Regions from separate parts of the Homo sapiens genome. Here region 2 is linked to region 1. The links come from fine-mapping of genetic effects on gene expression. Tissue or cell type: fibroblasts. Region 1 holds a variant in brackets; the other region holds the start of a gene. All regions are shown on one strand. Distances are from middle to middle.

Region 1 (8,108 bases):
GCTTGCTCACATCTCTAAAACAAGTCTTTTCCCCGACTACTCTTTAAGGGAGAGTCCACCTTTTCCACCCTCAGCATACTCTAGTCCATCTCCTTGCTTGATTTTCTTCACTGAACTTTCACTATCTGGAATTTATTATCTGTTTGTTTCTTTATTTGTTGTTGTCCCACTAGATTGTGAGTGTGAGGAGGGCAGGGGCTTTGTCTATCTGGTTCATTGCTGTATCCCTGGGGCCTAGAACAGCACCTGGTCCTTGAAGAGCATTAGAGCCTTCACATTCCACGGCCCCTGGGGTATTCACTATGGATAGTGTTCCTCTGTGGAACATCATTCATGCAGGATAAATCAATGGTAAACAAATCTTCAGTGAATGTGTGCTGTCTGCTCAGCAATGTGCTATAACTGCTTGACTTGTGTTTTGAGCTCTAACATTTCAAAAAGTCTGCCAGAGCCTTGCATATCTCCCAGATTGGAAAGAATGAGAATTCCTTATGATCAGAAATCACAAGACTGAGAATACTAGTTTGTTTTTTTAGAAGAGTCTTACTTGCAGGAATAGTTTCAAAATAGTTGCCTCATAAACTTCTGAGCCCTGGAAGTCCTGACTATTTCTGCCTGGCTCTTGAAATTTGTTCTGGCACTGTCTGAAGCTCTTCTTCACTCCAGCTTTGGGCTTCTGGATGAAAGCTCCTGGTTTTTTTTTTTTTTTTTTTTTTTTTTTCCACTCACCACTGTGAACTACACACCCAAATCCCCAACCCCAGCATTTTTCTTTATTCTGTCTTTGGCAGTTGTTTTTGTATTCTGGTTTTAGTTTGATGTTTTCAGACTGTTTCCTGTTCTAGCCATGGGCTATCTCTGGCTGGCTTCAGTGTGTCTTGTAGAATTTGTGCCCCACCTCCCTCTAGCTGCTTGTTTTTTCCACATTCTCTGTCTCTGAGTAGGGATTTTCTTACGCCCTGTTCACATCTGCCCCCTCCTGGCAGGTATGATATTTAGTGGAGTGAACTTGACTCTAGTTCTTGATCAGTTTTGTGCTTAATTTAGTATTGACTCTAGGTCTTGATCAACGCATCCTTCTACATGTAATGGGCAACGTTTATTCAGTTCCTAGCTTTGACCAGCTAGATGAAGAATGTGGACAAAACACAGGAGAGTAGATAAGTCAGTGCTCATTACAGGGGGTGTGTGCCCCACAAGAGCTGCATAAGGTGGTCCATTGGGAAACTGGAAAGAAATGTTAGAAACTCTCTTTCTAATTTTATTTTTTAATTTCCATATTTGTGTATGATCAAAGCAACTTTATGGACAAAGATGTATGATCAATAGAGTTTGGAGACCACTGTTCTGGATAATAATTCTACTTATACTTTATAACCAATAATGACTCAGTCATTTACACACAGTGTGTACATTATGTAAAATAAATCATATTCACCCCCACATTGAATCATTTTTATTGCTGGTGTCTGGGCAGTCATGAAATTCTTCATGCCCCTCTTACATTATAAAGTTCTTACTAGGTACAGTTTAATAAACCTATGGCTAGGGGTGAGCAGTGAGGGAATACTATATCATACTGACTGTTTGATCTTTCCAGAAATACTATTCCTTGTGAAAGATTCATCCTATTTTAAATGTGAGCCTCTGCAAATCTTAAAATAGTTGAAATGCTTCCAAGTGAAATAATATGTCATATCACTGAATCAGTTAAAATATGCTTCGACTCAAAATATCTTTGATATTGTGTGTTTTAAACTTTATTGAAAATCACTTAACATTTATTAAGAACTTTTTGTTTTTCTTTTGTACTGGGTGGATAGTTGTCAACTTGGCATTATCCCTGCCTCTTGCCATGGAGCTTTTGGGTTTGATTCTGCTACTGAGAGGAATTTGCATGACATTTGGAAAGAGATAATAGAAGTCATCATTTATGGTTATGGACAAAAGTAGGGACAGTGGCAGACTCGAGGCAGCTTCTCTGTGAACTACTGCTTGGGTGCTGTAAGCAGCTGAGACCAGCAGTAGTGGTTTCCCTGATAATCCTGTTTCATAAATGAAACAACATTTTACTTTTATTTTTTATAAAATCCAGATTCTGCACAACTGACTTAACCTTTTAAACATATTAATTTGACCCCCAAATTAATCTATAATTTCATAGCAAATCCAACCAAAATTCAGGTAAAATTTTTCTTTTTCTGCGGGATTAGGGTGGGGAGAGGGTAGGGAACCTGATAAACTATTTCCAAAATATATAAAGTAGAATAAGGGTTCACATTAGGAAAAGCAACTATACCACATAAAAACATAAAATGGAAGATTCACACCACTAGATACTAAAATGTTTTACAAAGTCATAGACAAAAAAAATAATGTGGTACTTGCAGGTAGACAAAGCAGTGAAATAGAGAACTATATATGCACAGCAGATCCTCAGATAACATAATTTCATTCAACATCATTTAATTATAATGTTGATATGAAAAAAAATGGATTCCCAGCCAGGGAAACTCCACTGTGTGGAGTCTGCACGTTCTCCCAATGTCTGTGTGGGTTTTCTCCGGGTATTCCAGTTTCCTCCCACGTCCCAAAGATGTACATGTTATGTGAGTTGGTGTGTCTACACGATCCCAGTGTGAGTGAGTGTGGGATGGTGTCCTCTCCAGGGTGTGTTCCCGCTTCATGCTTTGAGCTGCTGGAATATGCCAGTTGCAATATAATAAATGAATGAATACAAATTATTGTCAAATAAAAATTCATAAAGTAGACAATAATCATACAAACGCATGACAGTAACTGATGTGGTAGGAAAGCGTTCAGTGGCTGGGTGTGGTGGCTCACGCCTGTAATCCCAGTACTTTGGGAAGCCAAGGCCAGCGGATCACCGGAGGTCAGGAGTTCGAGACCAGCCTGGCCAACATGGCAAAACCCTGTCTCTACTAAAAACACAAAAATTAGGCAGACATGGTGGCACGCACCTGTAATCCCAGTTACTCAGGAGGCTGAGGCAGGAGAATTGCTTGAACCTGGGAGGTGAAGGTTGCAGTGAGCTGGCCGAGATCGTATTACTACACTCCATCCTGGGGGATAGAGCGTAGAGCGAGACTCTGTCTCCAAAGAAAAGAAAAGAAAAAAGAAAAGAAAAGAAAAGAAGAAAGGAAAGGAAGGAAGAAAGAAAGGAGGAAGGAAGGAAGGAAAGAGAAGGAGCTCAGTGAGCCACTGGATTTGATTGCTTTGTTTTGTTTTTTTAAGATAGAGTCTCACTCTGTCACCCATTGCATTGCTGGAGTGCAATGGCGTGATCTCAGCTCACTGCAACCTCCACCTCCCAGGTTCAAGAAATTCTCCTGCCTCAGCCTCCCAAGTAGCTGGGATTACAGGCACCTGACACCACACACGGCTAATTTTTTGTATTTTTGGTAGATACGGGGTTTTGCCATGTTGGCCAGGCTGGTCTTGAACTCCTGACCCTGAGGTCACCTGAGTGATCCATCTGCCTTGGCCTCTTAAGTGCTGGGATTATAGGCATGAGCCACCATGCCTGGCCTTGGAGTTGATTGTTTTTGAACTGCATGGGGGCAGGAGGTGCTTCTGACCATTTTTTCTTTGCAAACATTTATTCCTTAACTCACTACCACAACCATTGTCACTCACTAGAAATTGGATAAATAATTATCTTGTTTTTATTAATCTTTCTTAAATGTATGTATAGCTCAGATTTATTTTAGTGTTTAATATTGCAAGTGTTTTGGTCTTTATTTAGAAGTTTCATAATGTTTTTGTGACCAGAAATACGCCAAAGGAGCTTAACTCTTGTTTATATCAATTAGTCTGTGGCAAAATTGGTTTCCTCATATGTTTTTTCACTTAAAGTCAGAGTTTCCAAGAACCTGTCAATAATGTTAAGTGAGGACTTACTGATATGCATATATGTGTGTCTGTATATCTATATATATATGAACTTGGTATAGGCTAGTGGAGGCATCCCAAAATAGTGGGGAAAAGATAGGGTCTCATATGACATATAAAAATCATCTCCAATGGATTAAGTAACTAAATGGGAAGGAGTGAAATGATAGAGCTAACACAAAGGAAAAAAAAGCTAGGAGAACATTTGTGGTCTCTGAATGAGGAGGGTTTTCTTTTAAAAATCTAAAAAGCAGAAAATTTGTATCAAATCCAAGATTTAAGGTCATTAAGATGATGGTCATTATAGAGTTAGCAGGTAAGTGACAGTCTGGGAGAAGTTTTTTGTTTTTGTTTTTTTTTTTTTTTTTTGACATTATCCCCAAGTGCCAATGGATTATCAGCGAAGGAATTTCTAAAAGAGCAAGAAGAACCAGAAAAATGGTCAAAGTTTACAAATAGGCCAGTCTCAGAAGGGGAAACCCAAATGGCAGAAATATGGAGAATTGTACAATTTTCACCAGCAATCAGAGAAAGGCAAATTAAAGCAGGGAATCATCACCTTAAACGCATCATAGTGGTGATTATTAGATAGTTAAAGGCAAGGATTGCATTTAGAGGTGAAAAAGTGATATCCCTTTTTCTAAAAAGACACAGAGTTCACAGAGAAATGGGAACCCTTGGGCACTGCTGGTAAATTATAAAAAGCACACCCATCTGGGGAAGCCTTCAAACAGAGCTTCCCCCAGGTCCGCAAAGGGAACTGTGTGAGAATGTTCATGACAGTGTGCTTATGGCTACAGGGGACTGGAAGCCACCCAAGTGTCCACCGAATAGTAAATACGTAATATATGGCAGATGCATCCTGTGGGACATTGAGCTGTAGTTAAAAGCAATGAGATAAATGCATGCACGGGAACATGAATAAACTTAAAAACATCCTGGTAGATGAAAAATGTAAGAAACAGGATATGATTTGGCACCATACAATCCTAGAATCAGAA[C/T]GACACATTCTTTAATATGTGCCCTGTATGGAAATTTTAAAAACAGAATTCATTCAAATTTCTGAGTAAATTGTAGCTGATTGCCTGCTTTTCTCAAAAAATTAAGAATATATTTTATTGTCTGCGTGTGTCTTTGCTGCTGAGTTTAAAACTTGAAGTGCACCCACAGTTCTTGGTGTTGTGCCTAACATAGAGCAGGCCTTTAGTAATAGTTACTACGATGAGCTGTTCCTACCCTAAATTATCACCTTATAACATTTAGATGTGAAAAAGTGACATGTCTCATTCTAGAAAGACACAGAACTGGTAACTATCATATTGCTCCCACATTTGTTCCTGAAAGTAACCAGAAATGATTTATGAGATTAAGTAAGGATAGTTGAAGGATAGTTTTTATTTGTGTTGAGTTGTTAATTCTTCAGCTCAGGAGCTGGCAAACCATGGACAACAGGCCAAATCCAGTCATTGCCTATTTTTATATGGCTAGGAGTTAAGAATGGTTTTCACATTTTTAATAGTTGTTATATAAGTACCTAAGTAACATCCTCAATTTTGCCTCTTGGCCTTTAAAGCCTGAAGTATTTGCTATCTGACCCTTTACAGAAATGTTTACCAATCCTTGCTGTAGTATATTTATTTACTGAACAAATAATTACTGAGACCAATGGTATACCAGGCACTGTGCTAAGTGGGGACAGAGCAGTGAAAACAAGAGGCCAACTCTCTTCTTTTATGGTACTTAAATTCTTGTAAAGGAGACAAATAATCAAGGTAAAAAAATATAGCATGACAGAAAAGTGCTATGAAGAGTAATAAAGCAAAGGGGAACAGAACGGTTGAATGAGGTGTTTTCAAAAAAACATGGCTTTTCTTTAGAAAACATTGCAACATGTAAACTTTAAGTAAATGTCTTATTTGTTAGTATAAGTCAAGTATAGTCATGCAGCATTTAACAAAGGGGGGTATGTTCTGAGAAACGCATCGCTAGGGGATTTTGTCATTGTGCGACATCATAGAGTGTACTGTACTTACACAAACCTAGATTGTACAGCCTACCGCACATCTAGGCTGTATAGTATATAGCCTATGGCCCCTGGGCTACAAACCTATACAGCGTGCTACTGTACTGAGTACTGTAGGCAATTGTAACACAATGGTAAGTATTTGTGTGTCTACATATGTTTAGACATAGGAAAAGTATAGTAAAATACAGTATTATAATCATATGAGACCACCACCATATATGCAGTTTGTCCTTGAAGGAAACTTCATTATGAGATGCATGACTATAATTTGTTTTCTGGTCTTTTGGTTGGTGTTCACACTTGTTCTTTCGTTCCTTAGACTCCACTAGAATCGATGTATAAATACTCACTTATCTCTATGTCCTGTCTTGGCCTTTGCCACATCCTGTTTTTATTACAAAACTTCCTTTTGTCAATCAATCTCTATTTTCCTCTTCTATGTCCAGATAAACATTGATTATGCTAACTTGCTATTCATCCTTGAACTGCTTTTGGTGAATCTATCTTGCCTTCATCAGCCTCCCTTAAAAATGTTAAACACCTTTACTTTTATTACAAAAGCAAAATATAGCAGGGAAGCTAACTATACAAAATATGATAAACTTCAATTAATATTTTGGAATTTAACCTTAGAAGTAATGTTTTATCATTCGATTCATCACACACAGATTCATACTTCAGACACTTTATAACATGTCTTTTTTCTCTTAATGTATGTTATGGATATCTTTTCAAAATAATAAAAGACCTCTATTACATTTTTTTGACTGCTGCATGATAGGAATTGCATTCAACTGTGATGTGAAGCAAATGTGATTAAAGTAACTTGAGTATGTAAGAAGTGTTTTTTGTCTTTTATTTTTGTCTTCTTTCTTCATACAACAGTGGATCTGGAGGTAGGCAACTGCTGGCATTAGTTCAGAAGGTGTCAAGACAAGTTATTTGTACAATTCTTGGCCTTTTCTCCCTAAAGTCAAAGTAGCTGCCACGGTTCCATCCATTTTATCCACAGTCTAGGTAGGAGAAAGGGGAATGGAAGCTGTATTGCTTTCCTGTTGCTGCTTATTATCTACAGTTCTAGAGTTAAGAAGTCTAAACTCAGTTTCACTGTGGTAAAATCAAGGTATTGGTAGTGCTGTGTTCATTTTGGAGGCTCTCAAGAGAATCTATTTCATTTTTTTCTAGTTTCTAGGGGCTGTCCACATTCCTTGGCTCATGGCCCCTCCCTCCATCTTCACACCATCAGTGCAGCCTCTTCAAATCTCTCTGACTACTCTCTACTACTCCCTGCCTCTGTTCTAACATTTCCTTCCCCGATCATAACCTTCTTGCATCCCTCTTACGTGGATTCTTCTGATTGTATAGGATCGTCCAGGATAATCTCCCCATCTCAAGAGTCTTGGTCACATGTGCAAAGTCTCTTTTGCCATGTGAGATAACATATTCACAGGTTCCAGGGATTGAGATATGGATATTTAGAGGTGGAAGGGTCATTGTTCTACCTACAACAAAAACCAGCTAGAACAGGGTAGTATTTCTATCAAGAAAATGAAAATTTCCAGAAATTGCCATTGGACTTGGGTTGATATCTCTTTGCTCAAAGCTGTATCATGTATCATTCTTCAGTGACACCTTTAACTGACTCCAGGAGGAAGCTCTGGAACTAAAATAGCCTGCTAGAATTGTCGTGTATGGGGTCAGATAACCTGGTCATTTTATGCCAGTGTGATCAGTCACTGGAAGTGGGCTAACCTAAGAAGGGTGTGACCTTGGGCGAGGTGGTGCTCTACAACTCGAGCACATCCTGCATGGCTAGCAGCTTGGGGCTGTCTGCAGACAGCACTCCCAGTCATGGGGCAATAAATCTTCCCCTGAATGGGGTACCTGGAGGGCACATCACAGTGTTCACTACAGTCATGGTTTAAAACGCTGAGGTAGATCTCTGTGTATCACTAGGGGGGAAATGTCCACATGTAGCATGACATAAATAAAGCAGTAATAAATGTCAGAGAGGCTTTACAACAGTAATGAGTTGATGATCACAGGACCCAGGAATGCTCTACTACCCTCTTAGCCTTGCCAACTCAGTCTCTTTTTGAAGTTCATGAAGGAGTGAGAACCTTAAGGAACAAAAGCAAGTCTTACGTAAGAGGCCACTTTTTATCATCTG
Region 2 (8,093 bases), 120 kb before region 1:
TTTTCTGACACTGTCCTAATGGGGGTGGGGTGGGCACTGCCTCAATACTGCCAAGTCAGAGTCCAGATTTCTCCTCTGTTTCCACTGATACCTGAAATGGGGAAAGGAGCCCCTCATTACTGCTGAATGGGGGTAGGAATTCTGGCTTCTCACTAGGGCCGAGAAGGTGGGTAGGATTGTCTTGTTATATTCACCACATGGTCTCCACTGACACCATGGGTACAGATTGCCTGTTTACTGCCCAACAAGGATTAAAGTCCTGATTTCTTATCCAGCCTCCTCTCATACCACCCTAGCAGAGGTGGTGGGGGTGCCTTTTTATAGCCTGGCAAGGGTAGAAGTCATAATTTTTTTCTATGGTGTTTTGCAGCAGTAGGAAAATTATTTTCTAAAAGCTTTCCGTTTTGTTAGGCTGCCCCTCCTTTCCCGGTCCTGTAGCTAGAGAGAAGAAGATTTTGTTGGGGCTTTTTATGTTTGCATCTGTTGGCATTTTGGGGTTGTTGGCTTGTCTAGCACCCAGTCTCAGATTTGCTAGAAAAAGAGAAAAGAAGAAGAAAGGAGACCCAGGGAACTCACTGCCATGCCCTTCTTTGGGTTCTCTGAGGTCTCCAGCCTGTCTGCCTTCTCTTCTCCATTTTTCAGAGTCTTCTTATGTATACTTTATATATAACATCCAAGGTTTTTAGTTGCAATTAGCGGGAAAAATAGGGAAAGTACAGGTATTCCTATAAGCAAAAGAAAGTCCTATCCTCTCAGTTTATATGGTCTTTATGTTTTTCACATTAAGCCGTTGCAGAGCATATCAGGGTTTGAGCTAACTTTTGTATAAAAATCTAAATTACTTTTAGAATAGGTCTAATGACAAGGCTGAGTTTTTTCTTGCTGAATCATGCTATATTTAACATCATTTAAGCCAGCAATTAATGCTATCTCCTTGGTTAAGTACAAAATGTAGAATGTTAGAAACAATTCTGAACTAGAGTTAGAGATCTACGTTCTAGCTCAGAATCTTCCACTGTACAGCTCTGTGACCTTAGGCAGATCTCTTGGCATCTCAGAATTCTCATCTGAATTAACAATGTTGGACTCATTAGATGATCTCTAAGTTTCTTCTAGCTGTAAAGTTTTTATTTTCCTCTCATCAATGCCACTACTTTAAAAAAATATGTAGACATTCTGTAATACAGGGCTTAAAATATATTGATTAAACCAAGTAAAATCCTCAAAAATAAATAAGACAAATAGGAATAGCTTTTATTGAATGCTGTGTTCCAGGCACTACAGTAAGTGTTTTATGAATATTCTCTCGTCCAGTTCTTAAAACTTTGAAGTTAGAAGTTATACTCATTTTATAGATGAGAATGCTGAGACTCAGAAAGGTGAAAAATGTGTCTAAGAATATTTTTTTGTAAAGATATAATTGACCCCAAGTTTATTTGATTCCAGAGCTGATGTTTGCAACCACTTATATAGATTTTCAAAATTTTTTTGGCCACTTTTCAAGAGGCAGATTATTTTATAGAAATTGGATTCTAAAGCAATACTTCTGGGTAGCTAAAAGATACATTTTATTTAATTTTTCCCATCACTTTATTCGGCTTGGATTTATTTTTTAACTACATAAATATTGAATACAGAAAGTAAATACATACAGCTTTTTTTTGTTTATTATTATTCATCACTTATTTAGCAGACATAGGAGGCATTATTACCCTTGAGAGGTAAAGGAATAAACTAAGGGTTGTAAAATATCGTTACTCAAGAGCAAAAATTTAATTTGCCAACTTTCCATAAACTTCATAGTATCTCAAGTCTCAGGAACTAGAAGAGATACATTATTTCTATGTGTAAATTTTGCTTATTTATGGAGAACAGATAAGGAACCATTTGCAAGACTATTAGAGTTAATTAAAAGGTGGAGGTCAAGAAAAAATTAAAAATAATAGAGGAAACAGAATAGAGCAAATAATGTCAAATTTAAATGTATACGATAACATAAGCACTTTATCATGATATTAGTTCCTAAAAGTATTTCATAAAAAATATTGTTTGGTTTTAAGTAAATTAAATGAGCATGCATTATAAAATGAACTCTTGAATACTTGGCAAGTTGAGATCTTATGTTTTCTTAGAACCAAAATTGTGTTTAAAAAAGGTTTATCTTCTTAATTGAAATAAGTTCTATACATTTATGTAAATGTCTGGAATATATTTATGTGGTAAAGACCCTGAAGAATTTATAAAATGATGATTATCAAGGAAGGGAGGGGATTCCAATATGAAAAGCCAGGTCTACTTTAATCCTTGTTTTATCCTTGCTTTTCATTATGAAGCCCCCCTAACTTTCTCATGGCTCACTCTAGATTTTGGGTATTCCAATGGAAATTATTCAAATTTCACTTTACTATGTGTCTCAGAATTACGGAAAGAGCAAATTGTGATGTAAAGAGTTGTTGCTATATCATTCCTTTATAAGGATTTAGGAAGCTGGTATTTGGCTCTGTAATCTTGTTCTGAGATCAGAGTGTGCTTTTCTAGGAAAATGATTTTCTATTCAGAAAGTTACCATGATTTTGCTAGAGAGCTGGTTCCTGGTTAGATGTTTTATTTTTGCCATAAGCCCATTGTGTGGAGTTTTATTTTTGCCATAAACTCATTGTGTGGTGAGAGCTTTCAAGAATTTGACATCTCTGGTGTAGAGCTTTCAAATTATTTATTTTAGGTTTTATTGAAACTGAACAAACAAAATATTATTCATAAATCTATTATAAGACAGAGAAAAACTGCTCAATTCTGGGTGGGGTGGAAGTAGGAATAGGGGTACAGCTCTGTCCTTCGTCATTCTACTTATGCATAAAGCATGTTCTATTGAATTCCTTAGAGTCTGGACAGCACAGTTTGAAAAACCTTCAGTGAAATACAAAGATCACTAGATTAGAAATCGAAGGATTTAGAATCCCAGTTCTGCTATCAGCCAGCTGTGTTACTGAACCTCTATGGTACAGATTTCCTCACCTGTTAAATAAGGAGAATGAACTAGGTCTCTTTCAGGTCAAATATTTGAGGAAACCATTAGCAACTACATGTAAATCACAAAACTCCTATACTTTATTTGTTCACTACTGCAAAATAAGATGTTTCCTGGGTAAAATCCACATGCCCACCTCAAAGTTCTAAGTGTCAGGAGATTTTTTCTTTTAACCTTAAGAAATTTAAAGGAGTTCTGTGAAAATTGCAATATAAAATATCTAATTGTCCTGTTCTAAGCAGTTTCAACATTTCTGACTCTATTTGGGATAATCGGTGGTATTTCATTGATTCATTCGGCAAACACATTGAGTGTCCACTACCTGACAGGAACTGAGTTAGGTATAGAGGACAGAAAAGATGACTAAAGGATGTCCACTACTCTCCTCCCAATACAAAAGGTAATGTGTTTTGAACAATTTGTGTTTTTCAACGAAACCTTATCTGTTGTCTGCGATGATGCATCCTTTCTAAATGATAGGGGTGGCTTTGACATTTTAAAACTAAATGAAAAACGAATTGGCATCCATAAAGAACTGTGTATTTAAAACTATATTTTCTTTTCACAGAATGGCTTTATTGTAATAGATCTTTGATCAACTTGAGCAAAGAGTATTTAGTTTTATAGGGTATGACATGTTTTGCTTTCTGGATAAGCAGGGTCTCTCTTAAATATGAAGATGGCTCCAGTGTCCAGAGGGAGACTAAAATCTCTCAGCTGCCAGCCACGCACATTACCTGAATGATTCTGGATTACTACTGGCTTCTTGAGATGGGCTGGGGTCAAGACAGGGAAGAGTTTTGAATGAAGATGCCAGAAGAGGCCTTTGAGAGGGTGGATGGGAATTGCGAAAGGCCCATTTCCCCTAGACTTAAACCCAAATTCCCTAGCTGTGATGATACCAGGAACATCCTTCAGGGAAATCTCCCTTTGTTATCCACACTGGTAGAGCTCCCAGCTCAATCCACAACTGCACACCCCCTCACTCTAAGAGTCACTCTTCCCATGGTGTAGCCAACATCCACCCTCTTACTCTAGACGTGGCAGCCCTCCTAGATCCACCCAACCGTTGACTTACGTTCAAAGGCCATCACCCACCCCAGCACCATCTTCCAGGAACTGGCCTCTCCCCCATCAGTCCCCGCCCCTCTTCTGAGAGCACCCAATGGGTGGAGTCGGGGCTGCGGTGGGAGGGGCCTGAGGCGGGCACATTTAAAGAAAGGCAGCCGGCGAAAAGAGGCAAGAGAGGAGAAGAAAGAGAAACCAGGGGGGCGAGGCGCCGTCCAATGACAAAGCCCAGGGGTGGGCGCCGGCCGCCATCTTGTACCGGGCAGCAGGATATTCGCCCGCGTCCTCCGCCCTCGGAGGGGGAGGGGCGGCGGCGGAGGCGAGAAAAGTAGCGAGAGACGCCAGCAGCAGCCGCCGCCGCGGAGCCAACGCGGACTGGGACGGCGGCGGCAGTAGTGGGACCCGGCGAGCGTGAGTGGCCCGGAGCGGCCTTCGATGCGGCGCAGTATGAAGAGGCGGCGGCGCCGGCGCCCGGTCGCCCCGGCCACGGCCGCCCGGGGCGGCGACTTTAGGGCAGAAGACGGGGCTGGGTTGGAGGCGCGGGAGGAGAAGGTGGTGTACTCGCGGTCGCAACTGTCGCTGGCTGACAGCACCAAGGCGCTGGGCGACGCCTTCAAGCTCTTCATGCCCCGCAGCACGGAGTTCATGAGCTCGGACGCGGAGCTCTGGAGCTTCCTCTGCAGCCTCAAGCACCAGTTCTCCCCGCACATCCTGCGCAGCAAGGACGTCTACGGCTACTCCTCCTGCCGGGCCCTGGTACCCGACCCCCCGGGGCCCCCTACAGCCCGCGGCCAGGCGCGCCGGCCGGTTCCGCGCGCAGCGGCCAGGAGGAGGCGCCGCGGAGCCCGGGCGGCCGCTGCCCGCAGGAGGAAGCCCCGGCCGCCACCCCCACCGCCGCCGCCCCCCGAGGAGAGCTGCCCGGCCAAGCCCGTGGCCCCCGGGCCCTGCTTCGGGGGCCGCACCTTGGAGGAGATCTGGAGGGCGGCCACCCCGACGCTGACCACCTTCCCCACCATCCGCGTCGGCAGCGACGTGTGGGGCGAGCGCAGCCTGGCGGCAGCGCGGCGCAGGGCGCGCCAGGTCCTGCGAGTGAACCTGGAACCCATGGTGAGGCTCCGCCGCTTCCCGGTGCCCCGGGCATGAGGTGCGGCCTCCAGGGCGCCTCCTGCCGGCCCCGACCTTGGGACAGGCCTTCCGCCCGGAGGAATGAACAAGTGTCAGTCGAGTGTTTACAGATCCGGCCAGGACCCCGGCCCCCAATGCACTTTACGCGCGAAGAAGTTGCCGGATGGTTGTCCCTGTCCCGGGCCGCGGCGCGGTCGTCTTGGACGCTGGGGCAGGTGTGCCCTCTGCTGCCTCCCGTACCCGGCCTGCGGAGGGAGGGGACAGCTGGACCCGCAGGGGAGGTCCCTTTCTTCCTGACCACCGATTGAGACGTCTCCAGGACCTTAGGGGCAGATCCGTTTTCTCACTGTTGGACTCTACCTCACTGGTCTGGAAGTCCTCCGAAGACATTATTTTTCCAAAGGAATTTGGTTTCGTGCTTGTGTAATAAAGCCAGAATTTACTTGTTCTTTATCTCCCCCTTTTTCTATTTCACTGTCACCCCTCTTTGTGGACAGAAGTTCGAACATGTGGTGTTGCACTAGTTTGTGCTCAGGGTATTCTGAAGCCCACTCGTTTCCTAATTTTTACTGGATTCCAAAGCTTTGATCGAGGATATTTTTTAAGAGGTTCAAGCTTGTGACTGTTAGTAGTGCAAGGATTTGTATGGGCTCAGTGATTACAAACAAAGACATGCAAAATACAACTGTTTAAACATTTTCAAGGTATTTTTAAAGGTTTTGTATTGAAACAATGTTTATATTTACTGAGCTCCTAAAAATGGTAGAATACACATGAAAACTTTTGTTTAGGAAAAGTTAACTTGTTAAATTCTTTTGAATTGAATAAAAAAATGCATTGAAACCATATGGTGTGTGATTAAAAAAAATGAATAAATTGTGAAGAACTGGTTTTGGTTACAGGAGTCACTGGAATCCGACTGGAGATGATTTGGCCCCCTGTCCTGGTCTAACATACAAATCTAGGAATATTATGCGTTAAAGTATTTTAAAATACATTATCCTTGTAATGTATTTTACAAGGATAATGTATTTTAAAATGGGAGTTGCATAGGAGAGATGGATGTGTGTAAACATTATCACTAAAATGATAAACAGAATACCCATTAGAATTCTTAGAACTATTAATGATCAAGAGGGGTGGAGGCATTTCTTGGTATCAAATAACTGGTTAAGGTTACTTTGGGCGAAATCTATTTCCTTTTTGTTTTTGTTGTTGGATAACAAGAAATGTCTAGACTAATATTCATCAGTTTTACAAACATAATGAAAATTAGTTGATTTTTAGTTGATTTTTTTGTCCCAACATTTTTTTTAACCTTTTTGCCACTCATTATATGTTTGCAGTTCTAGGTCTTTGACAGCTGAAGACCACAGGAATCAAACAGGCGAGACACACAGAATACTGACCCTTCTTTACGCTTTTATAGTGTTTATACCATATGGCCCAGTGTGGAATTCTTGATTATCCAAGTGCCTTTGGTCATTTGTGGCAGGAAAACTTAATAGTTTTTAGCCAGCAGTGCCACAGCCAGCTTTTACTGCAATACCTAAAGGGTCAAGTAGTGTTTTTGTACCACTATTATTTCAAATTTAAGTATTCTGCCATGAAACGATCCATACTGGGCTGGAACTTGACATGTGAAATCTTTAATACTAAAGCTTATCTCTGCTTGGCAGCTTTTTAGGAGAATAATGAGAGTTACAATTTTGACTCTTGCGTTCCTAGAATTCAAATGGCATAGCTTTCTGAAATGAGTATTTCAAGTTTAGTAGTCCGTATAGGAGTGTTGTGACTTCAATTTCAGTGTTCTTGTTAAAAGAAATAATATGATATATATATACACACATATATATAACTTGATGCCAGTTTTCTAGTAAGCCTCAGTCTTTTATTCACTACTCAATGATAATGCATTGTACAAACACTGTCACATGAGTAAATAAAAATGAATAATTCCTTAGAAGATGGAGAGTGTTAAATTATATTTGTGATAGGAAGCTTAGACATATCTTTTGGTTATTAGCTTCCATTGCCAATTGTATTTCAGATGCATAGGGTTTTCTTCCCAAAAATATATTGTTAACTTTTATAGCTAACTAGCACCTGGAAAAAATGTATTTGTACAACTTTACTATTGTATATAGTTTTATAATAATGAAAAATAAACCCAATGGCCATATTAGAATGCAATTTCGACATACAGCTTATCTAGATAGTTTTCCAGAGGATTTTGAAATTTGGCTTAACTGGGAGGATAACTGCTCAGCACACCACTGAAACATAACCACTGACACCATTCATTTATTTTAACTGAGATTCTTGACATTTTTCTCTCCTATGCCTTGTTACTTTAGCATACTTGAACTCACATAAATGCTTCTTTGGATTACATGGGCTATCTGATTCCATTTTGGATCTGATTGTCCATCTTGAATTCAATATGGTATTCATCTGGACTATTCAAAAATTATGCCATTTCTAGTCTGTGAAATAAGATGTAAAAAATCTTTATTTTTGCCCTTTGGTAAAAACCTATGTGACAACTTTTAAAATGTGAAGCAACATCTAATATAGTTGACTGGTATACTAATAGGAAAGTGAAAGTATTTCATGGGTACTTTGTCACAGAATGTGAAAAGAAACTTGGCATAGTGGCCTTTATAATGAGGCATCCACTTACTCCTCTGAAGTGAAGTCTGTAGCTTAGCTTGTGTATAGTTTTTGAAAGAAATCTCATGATCTTCGTTCATTCTCTTGCCTTCTCTTTTATCTCATATGGCACAAGTAGAGGGGGAAGCCAGGAGGAAATTCATCACCTCGCTATGCTTTTATTTGATTTTTAATTCCTGAGTGCCTAAATGTGGTGACC

Direction of the effects. Positions count from the first base shown, and alleles are read on the strand shown. Sizes are in standard deviations (SD) of each study's normalised expression.
As copies of T replace C in region 1, the expression in fibroblasts of the gene that starts at base 4,270 in region 2 goes up (small effect, 0.26 SD a copy in GTEx).

What was found. PIP is the estimated chance that this variant, and not a neighbour inherited with it, causes the effect.
Region 2: it holds the start of CCDC71L, and the variant in region 1 is fine-mapped to the expression of CCDC71L in fibroblasts (GTEx, PIP above 0.99).

What each region holds. Positions count from the first base shown.
Region 1 is chr7:106,535,523-106,543,630 of GRCh38, reverse strand. No RefSeq gene overlaps it. Among named protein-coding and RNA genes, the nearest start is that of CTB-30L5.1, 59 kb to the left of the region's middle. The variant C/T (reference allele first, on the strand shown) is at 4,914.
Region 2 is chr7:106,657,335-106,665,427 of GRCh38, reverse strand. CCDC71L (coiled-coil domain containing 71 like) reads left to right here and starts at 4,270. Exons shown (of 1, transcript NM_175884.6): 1 at 4,270-8,093. The coding sequence starts at 4,532. The coding sequence ends at 5,239. RefSeq lists a silencer at 4,827-5,096 and an enhancer at 5,447-5,496.